Linked DNA regions of Homo sapiens: regions 1, 3, 4, 5, 6 and 7 are each reported to be linked to region 2. Evidence: microRNA targets listed by miRTarBase, many of them from high-throughput screens and not tested one by one. Region 2 holds a microRNA gene; each other region holds the end of a gene's coding sequence.

The links. Region 2 holds the annotated microRNA hsa-miR-1-3p (UGGAAUGUAAAGAAGUAUGUAU, at 2,306-2,327, opposite strand). A microRNA usually pairs through its seed, bases 2 to 8, with sites in the 3' UTR of a target mRNA and lowers its output. Matches are read on the target gene's strand: a 7mer-m8 pairs with bases 2 to 8, a 7mer-A1 pairs with bases 2 to 7 and ends in A, and an 8mer does both.
Region 1: the mRNA of CBR4 is a reported target of hsa-miR-1-3p. The part of its 3' UTR that is shown has no 7-base or 8-base seed match.
Region 3: the mRNA of OARD1 is a reported target of hsa-miR-1-3p. Seed matches in the 3' UTR shown: 7mer-A1 at 764-770.
Region 4: the mRNA of RAB27B is a reported target of hsa-miR-1-3p. The part of its 3' UTR that is shown has no 7-base or 8-base seed match.
Region 5: the mRNA of SLC75A1 is a reported target of hsa-miR-1-3p. The part of its 3' UTR that is shown has no 7-base or 8-base seed match.
Region 6: the mRNA of FBN1 is a reported target of hsa-miR-1-3p. The part of its 3' UTR that is shown has no 7-base or 8-base seed match.
Region 7: the mRNA of TBC1D9 is a reported target of hsa-miR-1-3p. Seed matches in the 3' UTR shown: 7mer-m8 at 2,199-2,205.

What each region holds. Positions count from the first base shown.
Region 1 is chr4:168,986,178-168,990,537 of GRCh38, reverse strand. It overlaps CBR4 (carbonyl reductase 4), which reads left to right. Exons shown (of 5, transcript NM_032783.5): 5 at 210-2,948. The coding sequence ends at 388. Among named protein-coding and RNA genes, the nearest start is that of CBR4, 22 kb to the left of the region's middle.
Region 2 is chr20:62,552,318-62,556,677 of GRCh38, reverse strand. It overlaps MIR1-1 (microRNA 1-1), which reads right to left and starts at 2,372; the gene lies at 2,302-2,372. MIR1-1HG (MIR1-1 host gene) reads right to left here. Exons shown (of 4, transcript NR_171007.1): 2 at 3,013-3,213.
Region 3 is chr6:41,063,368-41,067,727 of GRCh38, reverse strand. OARD1 (O-acyl-ADP-ribose deacylase 1) reads left to right here. Exons shown (of 6, transcript NM_001329686.2): 6 at 291-2,956. The coding sequence ends at 393. It overlaps APOBEC2 (apolipoprotein B mRNA editing enzyme catalytic subunit 2), which reads right to left. Exons shown (of 3, transcript NM_006789.4): 3 at 2,837-3,627. Among named protein-coding and RNA genes, the nearest start is that of OARD1, 6.8 kb to the left of the region's middle.
Region 4 is chr18:54,888,845-54,893,204 of GRCh38, reverse strand. It overlaps RAB27B (RAB27B, member RAS oncogene family), which reads right to left. Exons shown (of 6, transcript NM_004163.4): 6 at 1-3,981. The coding sequence ends at 3,792. Among named protein-coding and RNA genes, the nearest start is that of RAB27B, 63 kb to the right of the region's middle.
Region 5 is chr4:2,927,182-2,931,541 of GRCh38, forward strand. It overlaps SLC75A1 (solute carrier family 75 member 1), which reads right to left. Exons shown (of 13, transcript NM_001146069.2): 10 at 4,194-4,284; 11 at 4,046-4,093; 12 at 3,880-3,969; 13 at 3,386-3,772. The coding sequence ends at 3,657. It overlaps ADD1 (adducin 1), which reads left to right. Exons shown (of 16, transcript NM_001354761.2): 16 at 990-2,881. The coding sequence ends at 1,342. Among named protein-coding and RNA genes, the nearest start is that of SLC75A1, 5.5 kb to the right of the region's middle.
Region 6 is chr15:48,407,129-48,411,469 of GRCh38, forward strand. It overlaps FBN1 (fibrillin 1), which reads right to left. Exons shown (of 66, transcript NM_000138.5): 66 at 1,185-4,251. The coding sequence ends at 3,862. Among named protein-coding and RNA genes, the nearest start is that of DUT-AS1, 77 kb to the left of the region's middle.
Region 7 is chr4:140,618,777-140,623,136 of GRCh38, reverse strand. TBC1D9 (TBC1 domain family member 9) reads left to right here. Exons shown (of 21, transcript NM_015130.3): 21 at 220-2,355. The coding sequence ends at 942. Among named protein-coding and RNA genes, the nearest start is that of UCP1, 52 kb to the right of the region's middle. RefSeq lists an enhancer at 4,327-4,360.

The DNA.
Region 1 (4,360 bases), not on the chromosome of region 2:
CTGTGCCCCAGAGGTCCAGGCTGCAGTGAGTCGTGTTTGCACCACTGCATTCTAGCTTGGGTGACAGAGTGAGACCCTGTCTCAAAAAAAAATTTTTTTTTAAATAATTTCAAATTAAAATTTTCAGAAACAAATTTATTATTTTTTTTGAAATTCAGCAGATGTCTTAGTGTGTACCCTTTTCAACTAAACAAACATTTCTCTTTTAGGATTTGTACACACAGATATGACGAAAGACTTGAAAGAAGAACATTTAAAGAAAAATATTCCTCTTGGGAGGTTTGGAGAAACTATTGAGGTGGCACATGCGGTTGTGTTTCTTTTAGAATCACCGTATATTACAGGGCATGTTCTGGTAGTGGATGGGGGATTACAACTCATTTTGTAATTTGCAGATTATTCAGTTATAGGGGTGATTAGCATCAAGGGCACACTTTGGCTACTGATTAGACAATTATACCTACATGGGTAACATGTGCTAATCAAACCTGCTGATGCTACAAATGTTAATTTCTGTCTTTATAAAAATATGTCTCAAAAGAACAATGTGTGACAAATTGTGGTTTTTTTTTTTTTGGTCTAAGTTACATCAGTGTTGTTTTGTTTAAAAAGCCTTCATGAGATACAATTCACATACCATATAATCACACATTTAAAATACACAATTCAGTGGTTTTAACATATTTAAATACATGTGCAATCATCCCCCCAGACAAATTGTGTTTTCTAAAGGATGTGTATCACTTACCTTTGGTTACCTCATAGACTGTAGCAATCTTAGTGTATAGACATTTTGCAAGTCATATAAACAAGTATTGATTTATATATTTTGTCTCAAAAGTGGAAAAATTATATTGTCTAATTATGATGAATTATTTTCTTGTATCAAGCTGAATTTTCTAAAAGTTAACCTTGTGGGCTGTTGCCAAAATAAGAGTATTTAGAGGACACTGATTAGTTGTCAATACTTTAGCAAGCCCACTAAAGATAACTATATTCCTTTTGCATGTGCTTGGGTGATCAGTTTTTATACAGGTTGCAAAACATAGTATTCATTAAAGACATGAATTTAGAATTGATTTCTTTGAGTGGTATTTCTCTTGATTGAGCAGCTAGACAAAATAATCTGCAAATTTAAATGTGGCGCATTTGACTCATTCTTGAGAAATTCTCATAAGTGAAGAGGATTAGCCCTTAAGGTTTTAATACCTGGTACAGTAGTGAACCGCACAGATTTCATGAACTTAGGATGTGTTTTTTATTCATGAAAAACTTAGAATAGTGAACTATTAATATTTAAAAACGAGAAATACAACATTTAAAAAATTAAGAGTATTTTGCATTAGTGATTATGATTCTTATCCCAAAATTCTAGAAAGTAATAAATTCTGTATGAATAAGCATAAAAAATAAATAAATATGCAATAACATTAAATTAAATGTCTTTACAAGAAGCAGTGAAGGCACTGGTCTTAAGTGAGAATATTTGCCTGGGAGTAGAGATAAAGACACAAACCGAATGTGAAATACCAGGTAATAATTATTTTGCATTAAACTCTTTTTATCGGGAATAGTATGATATTTTCAGTGTCACTCCATTCATGTTGATTTGGAGCTGACAGTTATTTTGTGTAAGCAGAGATTTAATTTTATATTGAAAGTCAGTGCAAAATTATGAATAGGATATACTAATAAATACAAAGTAATAACAAAAGTCAAAGCAGTGTTCTAAATAAAAATTCTGGGTTCCTTAAAAATTATTTTAAATTTATCTTTGAAATAGTTTTCTTAGATTAATCTCAGGATATGAGAAAGTCAATTAAGTGTGAGTAAAGTTAGTATCATTAAACAAATTGTCTATTAAATGCAAGACGTGGTAATATACAGAATTTATCAGGCATTACCAAGTCTAGGCACATATAGGAAATGCAGCACTCAGAATGGTTTCAATGTAGTAGTTGATGCTTGTAAGGTAGGGGAGCTTATTCAGACATAGTAGATAGTTTCTCTAATGCTGTCTCAATTGCTGGCCTTTGGCTACCTGTACTTCCCCATTATGGCAGCCCATTCAGTCTTGAGTTTTCTTCTCTGGACACCTTATGCTCTGAAATCATGAGCGAGGCTGATTCAATTGGTGATTTGGGTAGAAAGCAGTATGTTTTGCTGACATTAAGATGTAGGTTATAGATAGGTTTAGCCTTTAAGTGTATGTTTTTATACTTTAAAATAAGAAATATAACCTTTTAAGCTATTCCACCTCCTCCCCCAGCCTATCTCAAACTGGTGGAATATATGGAGAGATCTTGAAAGAGGTAAAATAAACCTTCACTGCTCCACTCCAGGTGAATCCGCCCACTCCCACTGACCTAGTAGAATTTGTAATTTAATACTTACCTTCTATTTCTGAAATCAGTTGTGAACTGTTGCCTTATGTTCAGAGGTTTAAGAACCTCAGTGAATTCATTTTTTAAAATCTGCTATTCTGAGAAGCATTGAATGAATTCTTAACAAGAAGACTCATCTGTAGCTGTTTGCTGACTCCTATGAGCCCATAAGGGTTCTGTGCTTAGCATTAACAAAATAAGGTTTATAGGTAAAGCCAATGTATTAATTTTTTTTTGCATGGAGGGCTTTAAAATTTGTGCTCTTTTTCATATTTTATTCATATTCAATTTATGGTTTGTAACTGCTTTTTAGGGAGATAATTATATGTTATAAATTAGTTTTGGGGGGAATAATTGTGCAAAGAGGATAATTTAATTTACGTGCTTCTGTTATTCAGAATAAAGAGAGAAGACTACGCTGCATATTCAAGAGTTGTACCTTAACATTGGTGAAACATTTTTTCTAAGATTTTCAAAAGGAATATGTGTAAATTGAGAAATCATAACCACTGTCCTAACTTGGTAAACAAACTGTTCTTAAATAAAGTATTTAATGATTTTAAACTTTCTGATGTTAATTTTATCTTTCTCTGCAACTATAAGAGTAGAGTTTAAAAATTTGTCTTTCAATTCAATTGTAAAACTTTTGAGGGAAGAGACCATACTGTGTTCATTCATTTAGCTAATTAAGTAACTCAACAGATACTGAGTGGGTACTAAATATTTTGTATTTGTTTTGATACCCACACCTTGCCTACTCATCTCTGAGTATATTGGATATATGCAGTAAAATATTCTTTAGTCATTACATTGTGCCATAGTTGGGGAGATCATTGAGATAAATCTGTTCTGACTCTCAGTTCATATCTTGGAATATTTCTTGATCAGATTCCTTTGGCTTTTTATGCGACTTTGATGCTTGCTTTCACTTTATAACTGAATTTGCAAAGTGAATCGACTATTTTCTCTTAGGCAGTATGCTTTCAGTTTGAGTAATTGTTAATACCAGCAATTTAATTAGAAAGCTTTGGCCTAATAATCCAAATGGAGATGGTATCAGTATTACCTGCAGAATATTTTTAAAAATAAATTTGAAACATACATCAGGAGACCCCCTCCCTGGAAATTTGAATAAGTGGTAGGCAGGGTGAGGGAAATGTGGAGATACATTTAAGACACTTATTTATTTATTTAATTAAATTAATTTATTTTGAGATAGGGTTTTGCTGTGTTGCCTCGGCTGGAGTGCAGTGGCATGATCACAGCTCACTGCCATCTCCAACTCCTGGGCTCCAATGATTTTCCTGCCTTAGCCTCCCAAGTGGCTGAGACAACAGGTATTAACCCTGCGTGACTAATTTTTTATATTTTTTTGTAGAGACAAGGTCTCACTGTGTCACCCAGGCTGGTCTTGAACTCCTGGCCTCAAGTGGTCCTCCTGCCTTGGCCTCTGAAAGTGCTGGATTACAGGCGTGAGCCACCATGCCCGGCCAGGAAAAATTCTTAAGTATTCAGATTGTTCATTCATTCACGAAATATTTATTTATTCATACTACATATGTAACACTGCTAGTAATAGGAGGTAGAATGGTGACAAAAAAACAACAAAAAACCGAACTCGAAGTTTCTGGAGCTCACAGAGTAATACAGTATGGTGGGGTCAAGCAGACTTAATCACACACATATAAAATTGCAACCAAAATATGCATTATAAAAATGAGAAGCTCTTATTGCTATTAAATAATTAGGGGAATTTGACCTATTCTAGAAGGTCAGGAATGGCTTCTCTGAGGCAAGGATTGTTGAACTAAAGTTAGAGTACAGTTGGCCCTCAGTATCTTTGGGGATTGGTTCCAGGATCCTCTGAGAATACCAAAATCTGTGGATGCTCAAGTCCCTTACATAAAATGGTGTAGTATTTGCATATAGCTTATGCATATCCTCCCATATACTTTACATCATCTCTAGATTACTTA
Region 2 (4,360 bases):
TCTGAGAGTCCCGGCCCCCATGGTAGCGTGCCTAAGCCGTCTCAGGAGAGTCCCTGCGGGCAAGACATAGCCAGTGAGGGTCTGTGCCCCCGCCCTGCCTGCTCTCCCCTCCTTCAAACGGACAGGCACAAAGACCCCCACAGGGGAAAGTCCCAGCGTGTCCATGCCCCACGCCAGTTTGGGGTTCCCGTCCTGGCTGCTGCCCGGGAGCCAAGCTTTAGAGATTCACGCATGGGAGACTCCAGCCCCGGGTCCCAGTGTCTCCAGGAAAGCAGCAGGATCCCCAGGGAGCACCATCAGGCCACACGTGCAGGGGAGAGGGGCTCGGGCTGCCATGGGCGGTGTCCGTGCAATGCTCATTTTTAATTCAGCAGATCAGAGACTGGAGGTGATTTACCGCCAAGCAGGCCGCAGCTCTCTCCCTGTGAACTCTCCAGTTTTACTGCTCAGTCAAACCTAATTCCAAAACACTAATGCTTTTATTTAAACACCACATCCTGCAATAAAGCTTTAATGTACAACAGCCGCATCTAGGGGAAAAGAACGGTGTGTCTGTGGCCACCGGCAGCCTCGGTGGCCACACGCCCGGCTACTTCCCTCCCTGTGGCCGGAGCTGGGAGCAGGCAGGGAAGAGATGACGTCAGCGGATGCTGGGCACTGACCCTCCGGGTCCAGAGGCCGAGAGGAGGCTGTGCCCGAGGTCAACACCCGCCCCCTTGCTGCTACGCCAGATGGGGCTGAGGCTGGGAGAACGAAGTTTCCAGAAGGAAGACCTGAAGGCCAGGAGCCCTGACTGCCAGGCCCTCCCCTCCAGTCACCTCGAGGCTCCCTGAGGGGTGGGAGCCACCTGAAAGCTCAGAACGGCCCCCAATCCCTTTATCCAGCGCTCCCTATGCTGGCCCCAGCTGCTCAGGTGACCTGGCTGCCCCCAGACCCAAGGCCTCCAGCCGCTGCAGGAGGGGGCTGCCTGCCTGTCCCTTCCCGCCTCATTCCTGCCGAAGGCCAGGGTGCGGGAGGTAGGGCACAGGGGCACCGCTGTGGCTGGAGCAGTGCCAAGGCAGAGAGGACACACACCCCAGAAATTAATCCTGAGGCCTGTGGCAGGGTGGGGGTGCCCAGGCAGGGACCTGGCCTCATCCCAGGTGGCAAACGCCTCCAATCTGAGACTCAGAAACGAGCCGGGCAAACGCCCCTCACACAGCAGCCCAGCCGCTGCCTAAGACCCCAGAACCCGCCGCCCATCCTCTCCTTGAAGGACCAGCACTGGGGAAAAGGGTTTCACGGACGGATCCGGACCTGCCCTCATCCCCTGGGCCCCAGGACATCCTCCCAGTCCTTTCTCGGGTCAGGACTGGGATGGCGGCAGAGCAGATGGCTCTCAGGCCCCCGACAGGTGGGGCAAGGGGCCCTGGGCCACACGCTGCTTTCTGCCAAAGCCTCACCTGCATTCACAGCAAAACATGCCTCAGGTTGGATTCGGCGGAACAGAGAGAAAGCTGAACCGGGGCTTTGGTGGGGGTACAGGTTGGGGCGGCATGAACCAGACATTTGGCAAAATCGAACGGCTCCCAGGCCCCTGGGGTGGGCTGTGGGTTCAGGGCTGCACAGACTCAGCTCCTCTGACCCTGTCCCAGGTGCCCTCGGCAGAGGAGTGGGGCCTAAGGGCAGTGGTGGCCCTGACCCTGCCCGCGTCCCCAGCATCTCGTGTGGGCTGCGCCTTCCTTGGAGGCTACATGCCTCCGAGTTCCTCTGCCTTGCCCTACAGCCGGGAGGGCTGGATGCAGGTGCAGGAGGTGCCTTCCCTCCGCAGACTCTACCATGTGCTGCCCAGCCTCTCCCTCCTTTCTGCATCCAGCCACCTGCCCTTTTCCAAACTCGCTCTTGTCTTGTGCCTCTGAGCAGTTTCTGCCCTGGCCACACGTGGCCCTTTCTGCCGGCTGATGGCCTCTTCCAGGATGGCCATCAGTGGAGCCCCCAGAGCCGCCGCCACCACTCCGTGCTTTCCAGCCACGGCCCCGACCCCCCAGCCCTCACCAGCCCCGCGCTGGACCCCGCGCCTGCCGGAGGCCGCCTCCCCTCTGCCGCAGTCAGCAAGCTGAATATTTAATGTCTGGTGAGCACTTCCACCTGCTGACACAGGCAAAGTGACAGAACAATGCTGGCGGGGACACGACCGTCCACCAACGCCCAGGCAGCCTGCCGCCCCAGCCTCACCCCCACCACAGCCGCCTGGCTGGCTGTCGGCCGCGGCGGCCCCCGTGGTGTGGAGTGCCCCTCAGTGCGGCGAGAGAGGTCCCGGCCTGAGATACATACTTCTTTACATTCCATAGCTTAGCAGGTCCATATGGGCATATAAAGAAGTATGTTTCCCAAGCAGGCAGTCTGCATGCAGTTCCAAGACCCCGGGACGCCGCCCCGGTAGAAGCTGACCCCACTGCGATGTAGAGAAGGCAGCTCAGAGGCAGTGTAACTTCTTCCCTGGAGTCTACTGCCGGAGCCCTCTCTGTGTGAGCAGGACAGCCTTCCTGCCACTGCTGCCTGGTGTCCAGCCACCCCCAGGGGCCCAGGACTCCCTGCCCCCTTCTGACCTCGGCGCCCCTCCATCCCTGAATCCATCTCTCTCTGTCTGTCTCACACACTCACACGATCCAGAAAGGCAGAAGTGGACAGTGAGCCCCAGAAAGTCTCGAGCGCCTGTCCCTGGCCCCAGCAGTAGCTCGGTTTTGCGTCCATGGAAGAGACAGGCTGCCCCTCCACCCTCACCCCAGAGCAGGGAGGCATCATCCATGTCCCAAACTTTCAAAGCCAACACTTTCCTGTCCCCCTGGGTCACCTCATCCCAGCCAAGCCCAGAGAGGGCTGGGTGGAGAGAGGAACCTTGGGGGGCGCCCTGCCCAGCACCCCACTCGCAGGACCAGCCTCCTCCTTCTCCGGGAGCTGGACAACTCCTTGCTCCTGAGGCCAGACGAGGAACTGCAGACCAGAGACCCGAGAGGTGTCCTGGGGGCTTACCTGGGCATCTGCTGGTTTCCTGGGCAGGTCCCTGGTGAAGGCTGCCTCCCGGGACCCCGTATCCATGAGGAAGGGCTCAGCACCTCTCTCCGAAGATGCAGGCGAGAAAGACGATGCTTGGAGGAGTCCAGGTTCCCAGAGGGTGGTCAGGATCTCCTGAGAGGCCGTCCACTAGGGGGGCAACTCCCTAGGTGCCTCAGCCTGGCCACAGCAGACACCCAGTGGGCGAGGGAGCGTCGCTCCCCCGGTTCTCTCCCTCCTTCTCTCGCTCTTCTTCACCCTCTCCCCCGTCCCCGCCTCGCAGCGTCACCACCCTGAACCGCCGCGCAGTGCGGCCCACCTGAAGCGGCAGCTGCGCAGAGCCAGCAGCTTACATGGGCACCGGGGGTCAGCAGCCACCGTCACCTGCCCAGCGCCACTGCCGTGGCACCCCCGGGAGGCTGGTCCCACACCTGGCTCTTTGTGGCCAGCCGCCCAGCCTCCACCAGCCCCTGATCAATACCAATTTACAGTCAAATGCAGGGGGCCGCCTTCCTGTTAATGAATTTCCCGGTGCTCACCAGCTCCTAATGAGCCTGTTAAAGAGGGTTTAAGTAAACTTAGCGAGTGGCAAACTAAGCACTTTGGAATACTTAATTGTATCGATATGTTTTTCATTGCGTTTAAAAATGTCTCTGAGTGGGAAGCAGAGGCTGCCTCCTTCCCTGCCAACTTCTATGACCAGCCGTGAAGCCAGACTCTGAAAAATGTGGAGAAAGAGCCAGAAGGAGACCAATGGGACCTCAAGGTTAGGCCCTCACCAGCAGGAAGGGAAGCCGCCCCGAACCTGCTGGGAGCGGGGAGAGGAGGAGGAGGAGGAGGAGGAGGCCTGCAGGGTTTCGAGGCCTCGCAGTGGCCCAGGGCGAGCCTGGCACGTGCGGTGGTGAGAGGTGGAAAGAAGGCTTTGCAGGTGCCTGGGGGGGACGGGGGCCAGGGAGGCGCCAGTTGGGGGTGCAGGCCGGGCACAGACACAGGAGGCTTGCTAAGCGGTGGGGTCCAGCTGGGCCCTGGCCCCTGTCCTGCCACTGACCCTGGCGTGGGGTGGGACAGCAGCCCCGGGACATGAAAGGACCTCCCGTTGTCCTCATCAGGAAGAGAGGTCCAACATGACTCTGTTGCTCCTCCAGGCAGCCCGTCCATGCGAGGGGACAGCCCGGAGCGAGTTGGTTCTCTCTTACCACCCAGGGCAGGGCAATGTCTCCGCAGAGCCTGCAGTGTGCAGAGGCCACTGAGCATGCTGTGGCTGTGTGGCAGTGGGTCTGCAGCTGGGCATGGCTGGGTTGGAGTTTCACGTGGGGGTGGGTGGGGG
Region 3 (4,360 bases), not on the chromosome of region 2:
AGTCTCTAATGTCATGACAGTTACACATTTCTAAATGTAGCATGAAATAGTTGGAAAGTAGTATCTTATTAGGCAAACAGAAGTGATAGTTTTTGGATGTTAGAGCTGTCTAGGAATGGTCTTCGGTGACTCACAACAAGAATTGACTTCCAAACTCCTACCATGGTTGCCCATAAGGGTGTCAGACTAGATTATTTGTTTTTATGCTTTGAGTGGATATAGCTTAAAAGAGAGGAGCAGTTTCCTAGATACTTTCGTTACCATCAATGGAGATATTTTGTCTTTTTCAGGATTGGATGTGGTCTTGATCGTCTGCAATGGGAAAATGTATCTGCGATGATCGAGGAGGTATTTGAGGCAACAGACATCAAAATTACTGTGTACACACTCTGAACCAGTGAACATTTTGGATGTTTCCGTGTTCTCCTGTGTCATCTCTACTGGGCCATAGGACCGGGCAAACCTACCTTAAAATAGGCAGAGGAAAGTTTCATGAGAAGTAGTGTGTTTAACAAGACAGACTTTGGTTGCTGTATTCAAGTATTTGGATTATGACTGTGGAGGAGGGCTTGCTTAAGATATGTGGTTGTGTTTTTTTGTGGAAAAGTAAGGAGTTAGGTGGCTTGATAATAGGCAGGGAAACCAGATTGTCGGGACTATGACCTTTTTCTCCAGTATGCTACCTGATTTGTTTGGCTGGCCACTAGGTGGCAGCATTGGTTCTACTTCTCTGCTTTTTAAGAGAAATTTCAGGAAGGATGATCATTCCAGTTAGTTTGGCATTTTTTGTCGTTTGTGCACATAACTTGGTGTTATCCTTATGTCATCAGATTCCTCCTAGGGGAGAGTTTTTGTTTTAATTACAAAATTAAATTCTACATTGTTACCAAGAAATTTGTGGTGATAAAAATGGAAAAATAAAAATTTGGGGAGTTAGTGAGGTTCTGTGCTTATGTCTATTTGTTCTGGACATGGGTAATGGAGGGTTCACCTGCAACTTAATTTCAAACAGTCAGACAAAGGGTCCAAGCGGGAGGAGAAGCAAAGTGAGAAATAAGAGATAAAAATAGACAAGTCAAAAGGCAGGTTTTTAGAATCTCCTCATGGTGAACTTTTTCTCTCTTTTGTCCACTGCATGGTTTCTGTGATTGAACCTGCCTGAATTTAATCATGAAAACAAGTGAAATAATGTATGTTAAATGCCTGGCAGAGTACTTAGCACAGACTAGTGACCCAATAAATCAGTGATTGTCAAAAATCCTTATGAGTCTTCTTTAAAAAAATAAAGGCCACTTCCTCTCAAAAAATTCTCATACCTGTCATCTCAGCACTTTGAGAGGCTGAGACTGGAGGATGACTTGAGCCCAGGAGTTTGAGACAAACCTGGTTAACATAGCGAGACCCTGTCTCTACAAAAAAAAAAGAAATTAAAAATTAGCTGGGCCTGGTGGTGCAGGCCTGTAGTTCCAGCTACTCTAGAGGTTGAGGCGGGAGGATGGCTTGAGCCTGGGAGGTTGAAGTTGCATTGAGCTGTGATTGTGCCACTGCACTCCAGTGTGGGCAACAGAGCAAGACCCTATCTCAATTAAAAAAAAAAATTTGGTGGTGGAGTGGGATGGCCACTTTTGTGTTTTTAACCTCCATAGAAGATTTGGATGTGCAGCCAGCTGGGGTCTAAATATTAGTCCTCTTTTCTTCCGAAGCTGCAAAGACCAGTCGTCTATTGTGGTCATGGTAGGAAAATAAAGTTCATGGATTTAGCCAATGGTTCAGTATCAGAGCTATTCGGGAAACTAGACATTTTCTTGTTTTCCCTTACAGTGGTGTTGAGAGTTAAAACAGCCAGACTTGCTATTGATTTTCTCCCTAGAGTGACTTTGGGTCTGTCACAGGACTTGCTGCTTTCCCAAGTATAAAAGAACAACTGTATTTTAGAAGGGGCTGGTTAAAACACCAGGAAAGTACTGGTTAAATATAATCTTTGTACTTTAGACTGTGTTCTTATCACATATCAGCCTGATAAGAGGCAACAGTTTCAAAAAAGTATTTCACTTTTGTATTTCTAGGTGGAACAGACAAGTTCTTCATGTTGTTGGGGTAGGGGCAGTGGAGGGTCAAGTTCATTATCAAACTTTTAGATTGAGGCTTTTCTTGAAGCATTGCTTTTGTCCACATAAAGTTGAAGGGAAAAAGGAAGGAGAGATTATCTAAATACACAAAATTGAAAGTGAGAGTGGGGGATAAGAAACTTAAAGAAACTTAAAATATTTTGCTTAACTCTGCAATTACAGATGCTCCTCAACTTAGGTCTATGTCTGGGTAACCCCATCTTAAGTTGAGTTCAGTTGAAGGGTGTACTGAATGTGTATGGCTTTTGCACCGTTGTAAAGTCCAAAAATTGCAAGACAAACCATTGTAAATTGAGTACCATCTGTAAACCTTAACACAAGTCAAAACATGGATTTTCTAGGCTTCCTTTACTTTTAAAGAGATTATGGTTATTATTATTATTTTTTTCTTGGCGTTTGAGCCTTGATTCTTTAGACAAAACCTAGTCTCATTCAGGATTGGCTGTAAGTGGAATTCTGGGACTTAGCAGGAATGTGATAAAGCACTTTGTCATTTGCCGATAGTAGTCTTGGGTCAAATTCCGACGACTTATCACACTTGAAGCCTGAGGAAAGGAGGCATGCCCTGGTAATCAGAGTGAACACATTATTCCTGGAAACCTAGTTAGAGTTTGGCAAACACCCGGAAATTCACCTGTGAATTTTTGCTTCCACATAGGACTCAAACAAACCTTTAAAAAAAAAAAAAGAGAGACTTGACATCATCCTGCCATTACCATCAAACACCATGTATTGAATACTTTTAAATGATTGTATATCTGAACATTAAACTACTACTTTTCACCCGCTCCTCTCTAATAAAGAAGCTAGTTGCTTATTAACTGGCATTTGGGATGTGGCTACCTTAGATTTCTCATGCTTTTTGTTCCACCTTCTGCCCTATTACTTGCCTTCAGAGAAGGGAAAGGCCCTCACTTGATTGTCGTAAGAAGTCTGTATGGGAGAGTTATTCTGCATTGTCTAGGCAAGTCTTGGTTTAACCATGGCTTGGTTCATAGCCTGGAGTGTCCCTGTGTCTGGACTAGCTCGCTTGTCTGTGGCAACTTCCAGATGTTCAAGTTTCTTAAAAATCTGGCCACGGGAAAAACACACCACTTCTTTTATTAATGTTGCTGTTTTTCTTTTTTTAAAAAAATACCCAACTTAACATAAAATGCATATTTCAGAAATCTAAACCTCGGGTCTGAGGCTGTTTGTGTTAAGCAGCCCCCTTGGGTGAGCAATTAGGACCTTCAGTCCCATAGTTGACTGGAGCCCATGTATGGTTGCATTTCTCTCCTTGCAGGTCACTTTCGTCCTTCCCGAGAGCAGCATTAGAGAGAGAGTCACAGCCTAAATAAACTACAGCATGAGAAGTATATTTCAAGTCCTCTAAGGGCCTTGTCCAGTATGATTGGTTGGTGTCAAATGTTGTCCAGCTCCAAATGGTATTAGGAAGACAGGCATGTCCCAGATGGCTGTACATGTCATTGCTGTCTCTTGGTGGCAGCAGGAATACCTTGGTAAAACAAACAAAGAAAATGTGTTACTGAGAGCTCTGCTGGCCCCGAACAATGACTAGTTTCTTTTTGAACTAAGGTTTCTGTGTGCCCTTCCCAACAAGTCCCTGGATTTCTCCTCCATAGTTTCCTTTGCAGGATTGGGTAAATTTACCAGGATTGACTAAACCAGAAGCCAGTCTTTCGTTCATGTTTTGATGTGGTTTACACAGAAAAAGCCCCAGAAGAGATCTGGTTTAACTCTGGTCTTTTGACTAAATATAGGATTAAATACTATTTTGTCATTAAAAAAAAAAAAAAGAAAGATGAAATAAGTATGTAAAATAAGACACTTTATTTAACAAATGCTCATTTCTCAAGATTATTTTAATTAAGCAGGGTTGTTCTTTTGGGCTTTTAGATTACACTCTTATCTCATGCCAGTTTTTTTTTTTTTAACTTGATATATCTTAACCTTTCCCTTCACAAACATGAGCAATTCAAATAGAAGACAGGGAAGCATGTTAATGGGTCCAGATAATACAGTTATATTTGAAATCACTGAAAAAAAAAAAAAAAAAAAAAAGCTCTAAGGACTTGCTAGTTAGGCACCTGGGCCCTTGACTCTGAAAGATGTCTGAAAGGAAAATATACTGGGGTTAAATTTTAAGCTGCCGGTTAGTCTGTAGAATCTATGTTGGGTTTATAATTACAGTGATAGTACATACACTAACAAAATCTTCAAGGAATTCT
Region 4 (4,360 bases), not on the chromosome of region 2:
TGAGGAAAGAATTGTGTATCCTTTTTAAATGAAGAGAGATGCAGAACAATGAACAACCTGTTTCATGAACACAAGGTTATACACTATGATTAACTCACCACTGCACCAGTTGCACAATATTGCTTCTCTTTCTAACTGCTGCACTCACTCCACTGGTGAAGAGACAGACAGGCTTCATCAAATTTGTTGATTCCCAGTGTACTCAATTTGCAGCTTAAAGAACATCATATTGTGGCTATTAAATTATTTTTAATGTACTCATGTCCTTCTCTATGGCAAGCATCTCTTTCTTACAAAGGGGACAAGAAAAGGCTGATTAAAACTCTCGCCTGGTTCATCTACCTGTACAGGTTGGCAAAGAACAATTTATAGTAGAAGGATGACAAAGACACCTATCTGGTTAAAAGTAACAGATAAAATGTTTACTTTAGAAATAGCTAGTTTTGAATATTTTACAGGGCGATAGCTGATAATACGAAAATGATAGCAAATTGGATAAAGTGGTAACTGGCAAGAGTTTTAAAACTCTTATGGAGAGACCCACAGGCTCAACTCTTGGCGTTTAGTATTTTCTCTGCCAATCCTTGACTTCTTATCATTATCAGACCAAGACAAACATTATGTTCTCTGGATTATTTTAGATACATTTTTCAAATGATCTTTCTTTTTCTACCCTAAAAGGTAAGCTTGTACCTAATCACAGCTAAGAGTCTCAGGTAATGCCAACTTCATAAGAAGTAAGTGAGGAGACCAAGAGAAGGCAGTTAAACTCTCCAGATTCCAATAAAGTCCTTGCATCCCTTGCTGATAATATCAGAAGATCTTTAGCTGTGTTAGTGTCTCTGTGAGGGCTTCCTATGATATAACATTATAGGAAATGAGCTATGTGGTTGGAGACAAATTTGGTCACAGAGGTATCTGAGGCACCGAGTTAGAGCAATGTAAACATCAAACCAGTGTAAATACTCCAGAAATGGTTTCTATATCAGAAAGGAGCTTCATGTACATTTTCAACATTTCTCCTAAATACGTTTTACTAAAGCATTGGGAGATACTTAGTAACAGGACATATCTTGGCTAAAATTACATGCTGTTGTGGGGTAAATTAGGGGATTTGGAAATCTTTAAAGTAGTCTGTATACTTTATGGCACCAGAACAATTTGAAATTGTAAAATGAATTACACAGAACTACTAATCCTGAAATAATGAGAGAAGGAATTTCTAATAATGATTACATAGAATCTGGGGTCAGATGTCAAACTTTATGGAGAAAATTTTTTATATCAAGCATTTATTTATAAGTAGAACAATATTTTAAATCAATTTTGTCACTTCTCATTCCTCTTGAAGTTATTACCCAATAATTGTTATTTTTACAGGAATAGTCTTGCAATTATGGGCATCATCAACCTCTGCTTCATGCTACAGCTATCAAATAATGATCTTAAAACAGACCCTGAAAAAACACTCATTAAATAACTGACAGTGACAGAATCTTGGCATAAGTAAATCAATCATATAACTGAAAATGAATAGAAACAAAAAGACATATCAAAACAGAATACTTTTAGAGTTTTATAAAGGTTTCACATTCCCTATTAAGGAAATGCAGGGGACATTACAATTTGAATCCAAAGAAAAAATTGATATAATGACCCCAAAAGTTCACCAAAATTTGCCACAGCAGTGGCAATATAACTTGTTCCTGCTCACTTTCCTTCCAGAAGAAACATCTTAAATGTTAGCTTACAGTTTTCTATCTTCATGGCACAGGCATTGAGATAATGAAGAGCATCCCAGAGGAAACACCATGGGAGGGAATACCCAGCCACAACCCATCTTCGAACCTGTTGCGATGCTGCAGAAATCAGAGGAGCTGGCCAGTTAATGCTGAGAATTTCATCAGGGGCTAACAGCATGAAAGCTTTCAAATTATTAATATTTTGATTCATGGCACATTTATGGGTCTAGTCCATCCTAAGAACATTATAAAGAGACATTTCCTTGGATCTGTCTGTGTTTCTGAAACTGATTCAATACCAGATAGAAGTTCGCAGAGGTAAGCTGAATGATGGACTGGGATTTTTAGGGTCTTCAATGTGTATAACTTCACAAAAAATATGCACAGAGTATGGAAAAAGTAGGTTTGATTGGAAAAAATCTATACGACGAGGAAACAGCCTGTCAAAAAATCATATGCTCATAATAAAAAAAAACGAAAATATATTGTCTTTGTTATTTGGTAAAATTGACTGAAATAAATAATATTTTGATAGGAATGGCTTGTGTTTATCAGAAACTAAGATTAAAAATTAATGTAATGTTAGTTTAGACACAAGAACAGAATAGGCCAATGAAAAATAATTTTGTTACTATTTTTTAGAAAGAAAAGGAAGCTTTACATTAACAAAAATACTGGCCAGTTTTTTGTTGAGATAAGATCAGAAGTCCTTCCTCACCCAATCCCCCAAAATACAGCTCAACTATAGGTGTCTTGCCTTTGGCAAAATAAAATCATATTGTAATACAGAATGAGGTATTATCAATTTTTATGTGATTAATGACATGAAAATTCAGAGTGACCATAGAATTGATCCATAATTGTTCCAAAGTTATTGATCAACAAAGTAACACACCTGCATTTCTGCAATTGATTCAAAGTCAGGAATGGGTGAAATTTGGAGGGAAGAAATATGATTTAGTTTCCAGTACTTTTGTAAACTAAAAGGAAACCTGCAATAATTGCCACTTTTTGTTTCATATCACCATCTTATTTTATCTAAAAAAAATTCAAGGCTAGTTTTCCTTGACTGCATTTTAAAAGAGATTTAATAAACCGTAACTGGTAATTTCTCCTTGTGACTATTTTATCAACATGTGCTAAGAAAAAATGAAATGTGAAGCTGAACACCAAACCAATTTCTAAAATTTTGTTTGAAATGGAAACCTCTGGAGTTCTCTTAATTCCAACTGATAATATCAGCTCCTAATTGGCTTGAGTAAAATTTGGCTAAGTAACCCTTCCAGACATCTCTAACAGATACATTGAATTTCAGCTGTAGAAATGCCAATTTCTCATACTTTCATTTTTTTTCCCAGGGTATTTGTCTTGTACTTCATCATTTACAGTCCTGTTCTTGTCAAAGTGCTATTTATTAAGAATATAAAGACGGCATTATGACACTACCTCCTGCATTTTAACAGAAGTGTGACATTTACCTATTTGTAACCTTATCAGTAATTTATTCATTCTAGTACAGCTTATTGGGTGTACATAGTATATCATTCTTAATTAGCCAAATAGAATTCTTCATTGTGTATCCATTTTTAGCTAGTACATTTTCCCCAATGCAAATCTAAAAGTATGCATCTGACTCAATATAAGAAGTAAATCCAATATTTTAGAAATTCTTCTTTCTGTGTTCTCCCTTTAGTGCCTACCCTTTTCTTCAATGTGACAGGTAACTTGTTCTGATTTAAAACTCACTGATATTTCTTCTTGTATATTGTCTTATATACTCATTTTCTCTATAAGAAAAAACAAATTGAGTATCCATGATGATGAGATCACATTGGGAAATCTTTGATCATGTTTGAAAGGGCCTCAGGGATAACTAGTCAATTCTTTTGAACACTGTTGACTATTCTGGTTTCTTAAAATAGATTTTCTGGCAGAAAAAGAAAGACATGCCATTGTGCGTGGTTTACTCAACAACAATTGTGTGGTTTGTCATTGTTTTTAAAAGTAATATTTTGGTGGGGTTCTTGATGTTCAGTTTCTATGTAGAGTCTAGCAGATACATTTCTTCTCTGGTGGCTTTTCCCCATCCAAGTTTCCAGAATTTCCACCATTGACAGTATCAGGGATTTGTGTCTTCTCCACACACTGTTCCATTCGCTTCATGATTAAGTCCAAAAGGGTTTCTACAGCTTTCTCCACATTCTGTCCAGTTGCTGCACTTGTTTCAAAATATGGTATGCTAGCATAGAAAGGATGGCAAATATTTTTGAGAGGAAGAAATCAGAACAGATACAGCAAGATGTACAAGTGAATCACACATGCAAAAACGGCTGGCTGAGAGATTGTGAAATGATTATGGTTTTGCTGGCTAAGTTGGAAAGCATCCTTGTTTTTTCCTCAGTGAGTAAAAATTGGTGAGCTGCTCTTTAGTATGATTACAACCAGTTTTATGGGCAAGGAAATTGACACAAGAGGTAGTCAGGAAGTTGAAGCCAAGGCATTATCACTGTTTAAAAAAATTAGGAGGGGAAAAATACCCTCTGATCAATAAAACTACTGACCAATGTTACTATTAAAATATTGCTTCCCTTCCACTCAATTATCTGGAAATCTCCTTT
Region 5 (4,360 bases), not on the chromosome of region 2:
CCGTCCTAGCATCAGCCACACCATGCCCAGCAGAGCGGGCCCCATCTCCTCAGGGGGAGCGGCGCCTGTGTGCCCATAGCCCTTTCCCGGTTCTCATGAAGCGTGGCCTGGAATTAGCCTGGGGCAGCTGGCAGGGTGGGGGTGCTTCCAGCTTCCCAAAGGTAAAGCACTGAGAGTTTGGGGCCTGGGCCTCCTGTGCTGCTCCTAACCACTCAGCTGACTCCCCTGGCCCTGATGTGTGGCTTGATTTTTAAACACTAAACAGCTTGTGGTGCCTAACCTGTCAGTTGCTGGTAACTTTGTAGGCCGTTTACGAATGGACAGAGCGGGTGCCCGGGTAAGTGCAAGGAAGGCGCCCCCAGGCTGTGTCCTCAGGGCCGCTGTGCTCCTTCACAGATGGCCACTCCTGATGCTGGGTGGAGTTTTTGCCCCCACTCCTTGCCTTACAGGCCATCTCTTTCCTTTTAATTAACTTCCAGCCTAAACGGCTTTGTTCTTTTGGATGTTGACGTCACACAACGTGCTGTGGGAGTTATGCACGATTTTCTACTGGCTGTTTTGGGGGAGACCAGGTGTTGTAGACCCAAATTTAGACTTAATTTCAGTACTACTAGTACATGCCCTTAGGGTGACAGGGCAGACTTCTCGTCACATAATGAAAGCGGGACGTCGCTCCTTTAGTCGTCCTCAGCTTGTGCTGCAGTCTGTCTTTCCGGCGGGGGGACCCAGGCCTGGGACGGAGTCTGGTGTTGTCAGCACACTGCCCACCAGAAGGAGCTAAAAACTACCCCGAGACTGAGTCTGTATTTTATGATATTAGCTCCATCCAGCCGTACAGTAGAGTAGACCATATTTTAAGTTTCTTGTCTTGGTAAAAATCTGTAGAGTAAAATAAAATGGCAGTTTCGTGTGTGGGGCTCCCCCATCTCAAGCTGCCCTTTGAGATCTGGGCAGGAACCCTTAATCCCATCTCTCACCTCACCCACTAGACCTTGTGCCGGAGCCGACTACTGGAGATGACAGTGATGCTGCCACCTTTAAGCCAACTCTCCCCGATCTGTCCCCTGATGAACCTTCAGAAGCACTCGGCTTCCCAATGTTAGAGAAGGAGGAGGAAGCCCATAGACCCCCAAGCCCCACTGAGGCCCCTACTGAGGCCAGCCCCGAGCCAGCCCCAGACCCAGCCCCGGTGGCTGAAGAGGCTGCCCCCTCAGCTGTCGAGGAGGGGGCCGCCGCGGACCCTGGCAGCGATGGGTCTCCAGGCAAGTCCCCGTCCAAAAAGAAGAAGAAGTTCCGTACCCCGTCCTTTCTGAAGAAGAGCAAGAAGAAGAGTGACTCCTGAAAGCCCTGCGCTAACACTGTCCTGTCCGGAGCGACCCTGGCTCTGCCAGCGTCCCCGGCCACGTCTGTGCTCTGTCCTTGTGTAATGGAATGCAAAAAAGCCAAGCCCTCCGCCTAGAGGTCCCCTCACGTGACCAGCCCCGTGTAGCCCCGGGCTGACCCAGTGTGTGCTCAGCAGCCCCACCCCACCCTGCCCCTTGTCCTCTCAGAGCCTCAGCTTCTGGGGGAGACATGCTCTCCCCACAGGGGGGAGGCACTAAGTCATGGTCCTGGCTGGAAGGTACTGAAGGCTTCTGCAGCTTTGGCTGCACGTCACCCTCCTGAGCCTCACCTTTCCTGCCGTCCCTCCTGTTGTGAAATCACCACATTCTGTCTCTGCTTGGCTTCCCCTCCACCCTAAAGTCTCAGGTGACGGACTCAGACTCCTGGCTTCATGTGGCATTCTCTCTGCTCAGTGATCTCACTTAAATCTATATACAAAGCCTTGGTCCCGTGAAAACACTCGTGTGCCCACCAGCGGCCTTGAAGAGGCAGGTCTGGGCCAGATGCTGGGCAGGAAACCCCAGCGGCAGATGGGCCTGTGTGCACCCAACGTGATGCTATGCATGTCTGACCGACGATCCCTCGACCAGAATCAGATTCAGGAGCTCAGTTTCTTTTTCACTTGGGTCTCTGGATTCCTGTCATAGGGAAGGTATATCAGGAGGGGAAGAGGCCTTTCTAGAATTTTCTTTGAGCAGGTTTACAATTTAGCTTACATTTTTCGACTGTGAACGTGAATAGGCTGCTTTTTGCTTTCTTCTTTCCAGACCCCACAGTAGAGCACTTTTCACTTATTTGGGGGAGGCTTCAGGGGACTGTTCTCACCTTAACTCAGCCAGAAAGATGCCCTAGTTGTGATCAAAGGTAACTCGAGGTGGAGGGTAGCCCTGGGGCCCCTCGACATCACCGTCATTGATGGAGCCTGAACCGTGTGCTCCTCGGCAGATGCTGTTGTTGTTACTTCCCTCCAAGAGGCTGGAAAAGGGCTCAGAGCTGCTGAGCAGGAACCGGAGGGTGACCCATTTCAGGAGGTGCCGGTACCAGCCTGACTAGGTACAGGCAAGCTTGTGTGGGCCCAACAGGCCCTTGGTAGAGCTGGTGCCAGATGTGGGCTCAGATCCTGGGCATGATGGGCCGAGCCACCTCGGATCCCACTGATTGGCCAGCCGAGCGAGAACCAGGCTGCTGCATGGCACTGACCGCCGCTTCCAGCTTCCTCTGAGCCGCAGGGCCTGCTACGCGGGCAAGCGTGCTGCCTCTCTTCTGTGTCGTTTTGTTGCCAAGGCAGAATGAAAAGTCCTTAACCGTGGACTCTTCCTTTATCCCCTCCTTTACCCCACATATGCAATGACTTTTAATTTTCACTTTTGTAGTTTAATCCTTTGTATTACAACATGAAATATAGTTGCATATATGGACACCGACTTGGGAGGACAGGTCCTGAATGTCCTTTCTCCAGTGTAACATGTTTTACTCACAAATAAAATTCTTTCAGCAAGTTCCTTGTCTAAATCTGGGAAGCAGTTTTATATTTTAATTTCTTTGTTCCCATGTTTGTCTCGTGCTGAAAAGAGACCTCCTAATGTTCATGTCTTGATAAAATGTCACCTGCAGCCACGCGTGCGGCAGGACGTGCCACCCAGCACTCCTGGTGTCCCTCTCCACGGGAACTCAGGGTGTCCAGGGAACTGCTGGCCTGTCCTTGTCCCCATGGTCCCAGTCTCACTGTCACTGTGTGCTCATGTTTGATGGGGAGGGCTCTGTGCTGGGGACATCCTGCCAGGGTGCGGGGCACACTGCCAGATACCACCTGGCCAGGGCTGACCCCAGCCTTGGAGGAGCCTGCCTGAGTGAGTCCCCAGGCTGCCACTGTGCAGAGGGGGAAACTGAGGGTCTCAAAGAGCCTTGGACCCTTCCGGTCAGTGGAGCCATTCATTCAGCTCCAGCTGCCTTTCCTGGTGTGGGTAGAAGCACGGCTATATATGGCGAAAGGCACTTGGTATAAAACAAACAGGTGCTTTATTTCATCATCAGAAACCTGGTGCATAGTTTAAAAAACAAACAGAAGCCCTGACAGCCTTGGAGTGCTGCAGCTCGGAGTCACTGAAGGAGTAAGTAAGTCTGGAGGAGCTGCCTGAGCTTCCTGCTTAGGGGCCGGCCCCCACCCACAGGGTCTCCCTGGACTGGCGGGGGGTGGGGGTCAGGCAGTGGGCAGGGGCCTGACCTAGGCTCCCACTCTGCCTGGTGCCCACAGCCTGGGCACAGTGGCTCAGCTACTCAGCCTTGAGCGTCTGTGCCGGGTAACTCAGCTTCTGCAGGAGGAAGAAGGGGAGCAAAAAGAGCCCGGACCACGTGGTGAAGCAGGCCTGGGCCCCGGCCAGCCAGTACACTGCGGAGAGACGGTGGCGTCACCCAGTCCCCGAGGGGGCTGGCACTTGGGAGGCGAGGGCAGGTGCTTGGCCCCCAGCCTGCCCCAGCACCATCCCGCGCCCTCACCTGAAGCGGCCACCAGGGGCCCCGCGGCCCTGGCCAGAGCACCTAGGCTGCGCAGTGTACCCATGACCGTGCCCTTCTGCCCTGGTGAGCCTGTGGGAAGAGGCACAGTCAGGCACCACTGCCCTTCTCCCGCTCAGGTGGCTTCGGCCGAGGGAAGGGGGCTCACCATAGCCAGCGACCACGGAGGACAGGCAGGGCACCACAACGGCGGCGGCTGGTGGGAGACATCGAGGAGGTGCCCGTCAGCCCAGGGGAGGGTGCATCACCCAGCCCCTGCTGCCCATCGGATCCCCTGCCAGGGCAGGGCCACTCACCAAAGGAGTAGAGCAGCAGCCCCAGGCCCAGCACGGGCAGAGAACGTCCCCAGCCGATGAGGAGGAAGGCGGGCACCAGCAGCAGGAGGGCCTGCAGGTGGGCACGGCAGCCTCAGCACAGCCCGTGCCCTGCAGGACTCAGGGGACTGCCTGCCACCCGCTTTGGA
Region 6 (4,341 bases), not on the chromosome of region 2:
GCACAGAGAGGATAATTTTGCCTTCATTTATGAAATGGGGATGGTCACAAAGATCAAAAATCACAATGAAGAGATAGCAGAGGGTGGAGCTAGCCAGAAATCGCATCCACTTACCTGCTATAACTTGGTTCAGTCCTTCTACCATCCAACAGTAAAAAATGAAACTGACATCCATTTGTAGAAGTTATAATTCAGATTTTTTTTTTCTTTTTCTTTTGAGATGGAGTCTTACTCTTCCATGCAGGCTGGAGTGCAGTGGTGTAATCTCAGCTCACTGCAATCTCCGCCTCCTGGGTTCAAGTAATTCTCCTGCCTCAGCCCCTCGAGTAGCTGGGACTACAGGTGCGCACCATCATGCCTGATTACGTTTTGTGTTTTCAGTAGAGATGGGGTTTCACCATGTTGGCTAGGCTGGTCTCAAACTCCTGACATCAAGTGATCTGCCCACCTTGGCCTCCCAAAGTGCTGGGATTACAGGCATCAGCCACAGTGCCCAGCCATAATTCAGGTTTGAATCAAGGATTCAAAGCAACCTATGTCCTAAAACAAGGTTTATGACTTTGTTTGAAAAAAAGAAACCATTTTAGATTTATTAGCAGTTAGTTGAAACAACAGATTTTGTGATTTTTGTCAGGTCTTGCCAAATGCATGTCAAATGTACAAGACCCTCATGTTTATGCAGATATTTGTGAGAATGTCTTTAACTGAGATCCAATCCTGTGAATAAAACCAGTCATGAATATACATGGAAATTTGCAAAGTCAAGTGTACAGCCCTTTTCTATCTCTCCAACCCTAACACTCAGAATAATATAGATCATCCTTTCCTAACTCATACGTAATGTCAGGCTCATACTGGGTTTCAAAAAAAGCATAATGAAGTAAATTGTTTTTTTTTTCTTCTCTCTTTTTTACAAAGTGTTATTTTAAATTGGCAAGGGGTAAATATCTGTCTTCAGCTATAAATGTGAAACTAATATTTCTGCCAGTAATGATCTTCTAACTTTAAAAACAATGTCCTTAAATCATTTAATAATTACATTCCTAATAATTACATTTCTAATACAGTTCTCTAAGAACTACAGTTAAAACCAGAATAAAATATATTCTGTGGACCAAGTTGATGGTAATTTTAAAATCCCTAACATTTATGGGTATATAACTTTTAAGGATACTAATGCAGCATCAACCCAATTGTCCTTTATTTTGGCTCATCTAATTTACAGACATGATTTCTGAAGTTTAACAGTATTTGTAATGGCAATATCCAAAGTGATTTTGGCTGAGTAAACTGCTATTTGTTGAACAAAAATGTAGTTGTTTGTGCAAGTTTAAACATTTCACAAGGCCAGCTGAGTTCATTTCAACCCTACTTACAAAATAATTATTGGCAAATGAAATGGGCTGAGGGGGTAGAGACAAGATATTTTCAAGCTTCTGAGAGATTTACAAAGCCAAGTTCTTCAACTATTGAAAGTGAAATTGAAAGGTCACAGACAATTGAAAGGTACAGGTTTAAATCTCAGGATTAAAAAGAGTTCCAACAAGAGGAATATTTACAATGGAACAATGAGGAAAATGTTTTGTTACAGTCAGAAACATGGAAAATATGCTGTTCAAAATTGTTGGCTCAGGAATAAATAAAATCCAGACTTGGACTATTAAAAATATCAAAGTGATCCACTGTGTGCCAACTCCATTTTCCCCTGTTGTTTGTTATAAAGAAAATCCGTTATTGAATATAATGCAGTTCTGGTTAAATTATCAAAGACATTTTCCATATGCAAACTGTTGTTTACCATATGCTATATATTCTTCGATAACAATTTTAATACACCTCTATCACATGGTTCCATAGGTGCAGCGTTAGAAGGAAATTTTGAGTTATATTTTAATCTCTTACCCAAGGTACAAACCCCCTTTGTAACAGCCATTCAGCTCATTCTGTTGAGCACCTATTATAAACAAAATTAGAGATACAAAAATACCTTTAAGATGTTAATGGCCTGTTAGGTGGAAGAAAGCATCTTTGTCCAATGGTTGCCATTAAGCCTAGACTGAAACTCTTCTATCTTGTGACAGGGAGCTCACCACAATGCAAGGAAACCCATTCTTTCAGTGAGTAGCTCTATAATTGGGACCGTGTGTATTAAACTGGGGCTGACATCAGCTGACCCTGGTTTTGCCTTCCGGAATAGTATGAGCCAAATCTACTCCATTTTTTTCAGCTGAGCTCTTCAAAGATTTTTGAGAGCACTTTCCTGTGTCCTACCTAGTTTCTCCGCCCACCACCTTCATGCCATCTTATTTCCTCTTATTTTCACTACCACGAAATGCTTTCCTGCCCTTAGGGATTTAAAAAATTATTTCATATCGACGGATTGAGCCTAACAGCTAAATACTCAATATTGCACTTAAAATAAAACAGACTTTAAAAATTATGACATTAAGAAACCAAAAGTTACAGCAATTGGATACAGTCTGGGATTATCCCTTTGTAATTAGATGAGCATTGACTAACGAAAGATGTTTAGGGGAAAAAAAAATGGAACAGAACACCTAAGGCTTGCCAAAACTGTGTATATTTGAGAGGGGGGCATGATAAATCTATTATAATGAAATTCATGTGCTCTAAGACAATGACTGAACTTGGTATTTAAGACTATTTAAAAGTCACAAGATGAATTAGGTCATGTTTCAGAAATGACTCTACAATCTAAATTTCTCACAAGCAAGTCAGGTTAATGACACCAGACTCTGCTACTTTCAATGGATAAAACAAGGGATCGACTCATATGTTAAATTTTCTTCTAGTGGTTATACATTTGGTACTTTCATAAGCCATAAGTAAGAGACCCAGGATAATTTAAATCCAGGAGACTTTATTTAGCCTCCGGAATGGCCCCTCCAACCCCAAATCCATGCAAGAACACAAAGCCAAGGGGTAAACTAAAAAAAAGAAGAGATTGTTTTATTGTGACATTTATGACATTGACCCCTTGTTGACAGGAATGACCGAGGGTAATCTTGGCATATTGCACATGCTGTGATGAAGGATGCACTGGTGATCCTCTGGCCACTGAGGCTGTTTCCTGGTCCTCCCAGACCTCTATGCACGTGTGGGCCAGTCACCGAAATTTCATTACCACTTGGTGTATACATTTAACAAGTCTTTGGTCTTAATAAGCACCATTACAAACCCTCACATTAAGGGCATTATTATTCTAGTTTATAAATGTTTCAATGATAAAAAATAGCACGATTACAGTATACACACACTTAATTTACATGTAATGTATTATACTCATAACTGAGATAAGCTACTGAACTAACTTTGGTTGATTGAAATTAATGAAGTATTGGAACTGAATACTTGTAATTTGGTTTCTAAGTTGTGTACATATTACAGTGCATTTATAAATCTAGTTTGAAAATTTACTAGCACCAAATAGGTACCATAAATGGACAACCTAGTACTTGTATTTGGAGAAGCAAAGTTTACAAATTTGCAAAAAATAGAGTAGTCCATCAATTGAAAGCACATTCCCGTACGTTTGCTGGAAGGATGGCATGTCAGCATAAATGGCCAACCCCCAATGGAAATACACGTCCCAGTTTTCAAGAATCAACACATATGACAAGGTAGCTTAGCTACACACATGAGAAGCCTGAGAAAGTGGTTGTTTTGAACTAGGGTAGTCACCTGTACCTTGCTTTGGTAATACAAAGAATAGTGCTTATTTATACAAATTTACTTGGTGAAAGATTGTACCTATGATATGATGATTCTGATTGGGGGAAAATATAGTTCTACCTATCTATATTTGTTTTTCTTTTAATTATTTGGTCTCTGGATGGTGAATTAATGAAGCAAAACCTGGATTTTCATCTTCAGATTATCACCCAGTTCACCACTGAGGTAGTCTTTGTCATATTTGTCTTCTAGTTGGTTAAGTTCTTTCTTTTTATAAAGTGGAGTACTACTGATTTGTAATGAATAGGTTCCAGCCACTGGCTTCTTCTTTGTGAAGTGGAGGTAGCTGATCCCTTCCTTTTGGTTGATTTTAAAGAAGCCATCTTCATTTCCAGATTCGATCAAGTATCTGTTGTGATTCGTCAGAGTTGTAAGAGCTGGAAGGAGTTCTAGGATTCGAACCTTGTTACTGACGTGGGAAATATTGAAAGCAAAGATGGCTGTCTTCTCAACATCCCAACTTGCAAGACTCACATTGGCTTCTGTCTCAGACTGATCCTGGAAAGACACATGGCAATATGTTAAATACAATGTACATATGCCACTTAGCTCTCATATTAAAGAAAAAATGACTCAAATTTCACACTA
Region 7 (4,360 bases), not on the chromosome of region 2:
CTCCAGCCTGGGCGACAAAGAGAGACCCTGTCTCAAAAAGAAATAAAAATTAAAAATAGAAACATCAATAGGAGACTTTAAACATGTCCATCCAGCCTAGGCGGAGGACTTTCCAGGGATCTTTAGGCGTTCTCATTTAAATGGCTTTACAGTCCACTTCAGTGCTGCCTTTCTGCTCCCCCAAGATTTCACATTGTGTTTTTCCAAATCGCTTTTCAGGGGCAGTTCATTGAACTGTGTAAGACAATGTATAACATGTTCAGCGAAGACCCCAATGAGCAGGAGCTGTACCACGCCACGGCAGCAGTGACCAGCCTCCTGCTGGAGATTGGGGAGGTCGGCAAGTTGTTCGTGGCCCAGCCTGCAAAGGAGGGCGGGAGCGGAGGCAGTGGGCCGTCCTGCCACCAGGGCATCCCAGGCGTGCTCTTCCCCAAGAAAGGGCCAGGCCAGCCTTACGTGGTGGAGTCTGTTGAGCCCCTGCCGGCCAGCCTGGCCCCCGACAGCGAGGAACACTCCCTTGGAGGACAAATGGAGGACATCAAGCTGGAGGACTCCTCGCCCCGGGACAACGGGGCCTGCTCCTCCATGCTGATCTCTGACGACGACACCAAGGACGACAGCTCCATGTCCTCATACTCGGTGCTGAGTGCCGGCTCCCACGAGGAGGACAAGCTGCACTGCGAGGACATCGGAGAGGACACGGTCCTGGTGCGGAGCGGCCAGGGCACGGCGGCACTGCCCCGGAGCACCAGCCTGGACCGGGACTGGGCCATCACCTTCGAGCAGTTCCTGGCCTCCCTCTTAACTGAGCCTGCCCTGGTCAAGTACTTTGACAAGCCCGTGTGCATGATGGCCAGGATTACCAGTGCAAAAAACATCCGGATGATGGGCAAGCCCCTCACCTCGGCCAGTGACTATGAAATCTCGGCCATGTCCGGCTGACACGGGCGCCTTCCCGGGGGAGTGGGAGGAGAGGGAGGGGAGGGATTTTTTATGTTCTTCTGTGTTGAGTTTTTTCTTTCTTTCTTTTAAATTAAATATTTATTAGTACCTGGCTTGAAGCCTAGTGTTTTCATAATGTAATTCAATGAAAACTGTTGGAGAAATATTTAAACACCTCAATGTAGGTACATTACACTCTTGTTGCGGGGAGGGGATTTACCAGAATACAGTTTATTTCGTGAATTCTAAAAAACAAAAAGATGAATCTGTCAGTGATATGTGTGTATTATAACTTATTAATCTTGCTGTTGAGCTGTATACATGGTTTAAAAAATAGTACTGTTTAATGCTAAGTAAGGCAGCAGTCATTTGTGTATTCAGGCTTTTTAAATAAAATTAGAGCTGTAAGGAAAATGAAAAGCCACAAATGCAAGACTGTTCTTAAATGGAAGGCATAGTCAGCGAGGGTAAATCCTATACCACTTTAGGAAGTATTAAAAATATTTTTAAGATTTGAAATATATTTCATAGAAGTCCTCTATTCAAAATCATATTCCACAGATGTTCCCCTTCAAAGGGAAAACATTTGGGGTTCTAAACAGTTATGAAAGTAAGTGATTTTTACATGATTCCAGAATAACACTTGTATTGACCAATTTAGACAGATACCAGACCAATTTTGCATTTAAGAAATTGTTCTGATTATTTACGTCAACTCATTAGAATTCAGTGAAAAGTAACAGTCTTTTGTCACAGAGAATCTGAAAGTAGCAGCAAAGACAGAGGGCTCATGACAGGTTTTTGCTTTTGCTTTGCTTTTGTTTTTGAAAGAGTAAAAGTACTGATGCTTCTGATACTGGATGTTTAGCTTCTTACTGCAAAAACATAAGTAAAACAGTCAACTTTACCATTTCCGTATTCTCCATAGATTGAAGAAATTTATACCACATATCGCATATGACCATCTTTCCATCAAATCAATGTAGAGATAATGTAAACTGAAAAAAAATCTGCAAGATAATGTAACTGAATGTTTTAAAAACAGAACTTGTCACTTTATATAAAAGAATAGTATGCTCTATTTCCTGAATGGATGTGGAAATGAAAGCTAGCGCACCTGCACTTTGAATTCTTGCTTCTTTTTTATTACTGTTATGATTTTGCTTTTTACAGATGTTGGACGATTTTTTCTTCTGATTGTTGAATTCATAATCATGGTCTCATTTCCTTTGCTTCTTTGGAATATTTCTTTCAACACATTCCTTTATTTTATTATACATTGTGTCCTTTTTTTAGCTATTGCTGCTGTTGTTTTTTATTCTATTTACAGGATGATTTTTAAACTGTCAAATGAAGTAGTGTTAACCTCAAATAGGCTAAATGTGAACAAATAAAATACAGCAAATACTCAGATACAGCTTTTTATCTTTGTGCTTGAGTTCCTGCCTAAGGCAATAACATTATTCTTTTGACAACTTTTGCAGGGGAAATTATATCAGGCAACCATTTTGATTAAGTAAATAAATTTTATAGGCAAACATAGAGAGAGAAATACAATTTGTAGTATATCAATGACTATATTTAAAATAAGGAATATAATTGTTATCAGTTATCTAACTTAAAATGCTTATCCATAATGATCAGTGATATTCAGCTTTTTAAAATATGCTTGTTGGTTGCATGTCTGTCTTCAAAACCACAATGAGATACCATCTCACACCAGTCATTAAAAAGTCAAAAAAGAACAGATGTTGACGAGGTTGTAAAGTAAACAACACAAATATACCGTTGGTGGGAGTGTACCTTAGTTCAACCATTGTAAAAAGCAATGTGGCAATTTCTGAAAGAGCTAAAAACAACTACTATTCAACCCAGCAATGCCATTACTGGGAATATACCCAGAGGAATATAAATCATTCTGCTATAAAGACACATGCATGTGAATGTTCATTACAGCAGTGTTCACAATAGCAAAGACATGGAATCAATCTAAATGCCCATAATGGCAAATTGAATAAAGAAAATGTGGTACATATACACCACGGAATACTATGCAGCTATAAAAAACAAGATCATGTATTTTATGGGAACATGGATGGAGCTGGAGGCCATTATCCTTAGCAAACTAATGCAGGAGCAGAAAACCAAATGCTGCATGTTCTCACTTGTAAGTGGGAGCTAAGCGATGAGAGCACATGGACCCAGAGAAGGGAACAACACACACTGGGGCCTCCTTGAGGGTGGAGGGTGGGTGGAGGGAGAGGAACAGAAAGAAATAACTATTGGTTAATAGGCTTCGTACCTGGGTGACAAAATAATCTGTACAACAAACCCCCATGACACTAGTTTACCTATATAACAAACCTTCATATGTACCCCTGAACCTAAAATAAAAGTTAACAAAAAAAAATACTCATTCCATCTAAGTAATGACGGTGAAAATGCGTCTGTTTAATCCTTATTAACATGCTATAATGCCATTTGGTTTAATCAAGTAGCTAGTCATTTATTGGACTCTAAGATTATTACACGTGACTCCATGTGTTTTTATCTTTGATGTCTTAAATATGCCTCAAGAAATAACTGCAAAATCTAATACTCTCACCCACCTGTACTTTGCCAAAATCAGAGATAGCATTGAGCGGGAAATAAGAGTGTTTTGTTTAAATGTGTAGCCCTGGATATAGAAGAGGAGCCAGCATTTTCCATTGTCATTAAGAAAGTGACAGTAAATGAGTAGCAAGTCCCTCTGAAAGCCTGTCTCTATTAATATGCTGAGAATTCTGTTGCAATCTTGTCCTTATTCGTTCAAGCACATCATAGTGCTTTTCATCACAGCAGCAATATACTGCATAATGGCAGGTTTTAGTCTGTGTTTACTTCTAAAGGATGCACAGGGAGGAGCCTGAACCCTTGAGCTGAAATTTCCAGCTTCGTCTACGAGACAAATAGGCTCGTCCTCTCATTCGCTACATCAGAAGAACATCCTGGGGGAATTATTCCGCCCTCAGCTTCCAGAAGACAGGTGACACATTTCTAGTTGTTCATGGTTGTGTTATGCACTTTTCGTGTCTCCATGGATTACTCTCTTTGATTTCAACTTGTGATTTACCATCTTCTCTGTTTTTTGGGGGGTGTTTGTTTTGTAGGGGTTTTTGTTTTGTTTTGTTTTGTTATTTGTTTTTGCTTTTGAGACAGAGTTTTGCTTTTGTCACCCAGGCTGGAGTGTGATGGCACAGTCTCTGCTCACTGCAACTTCTGCCTCCGGGTTCAAGCAATTCTCCTGCCTCAGCCTCTGAGTAGCTGGGATTACAGGTGCCCGCCACCATGCCCAGCTAATTTTGTATTTTTAGTAGAGATGGGGTTTCACCATGTTGGCCGGGCTGCACTCGAACTCCGGACCTTAAGTGATCCACCC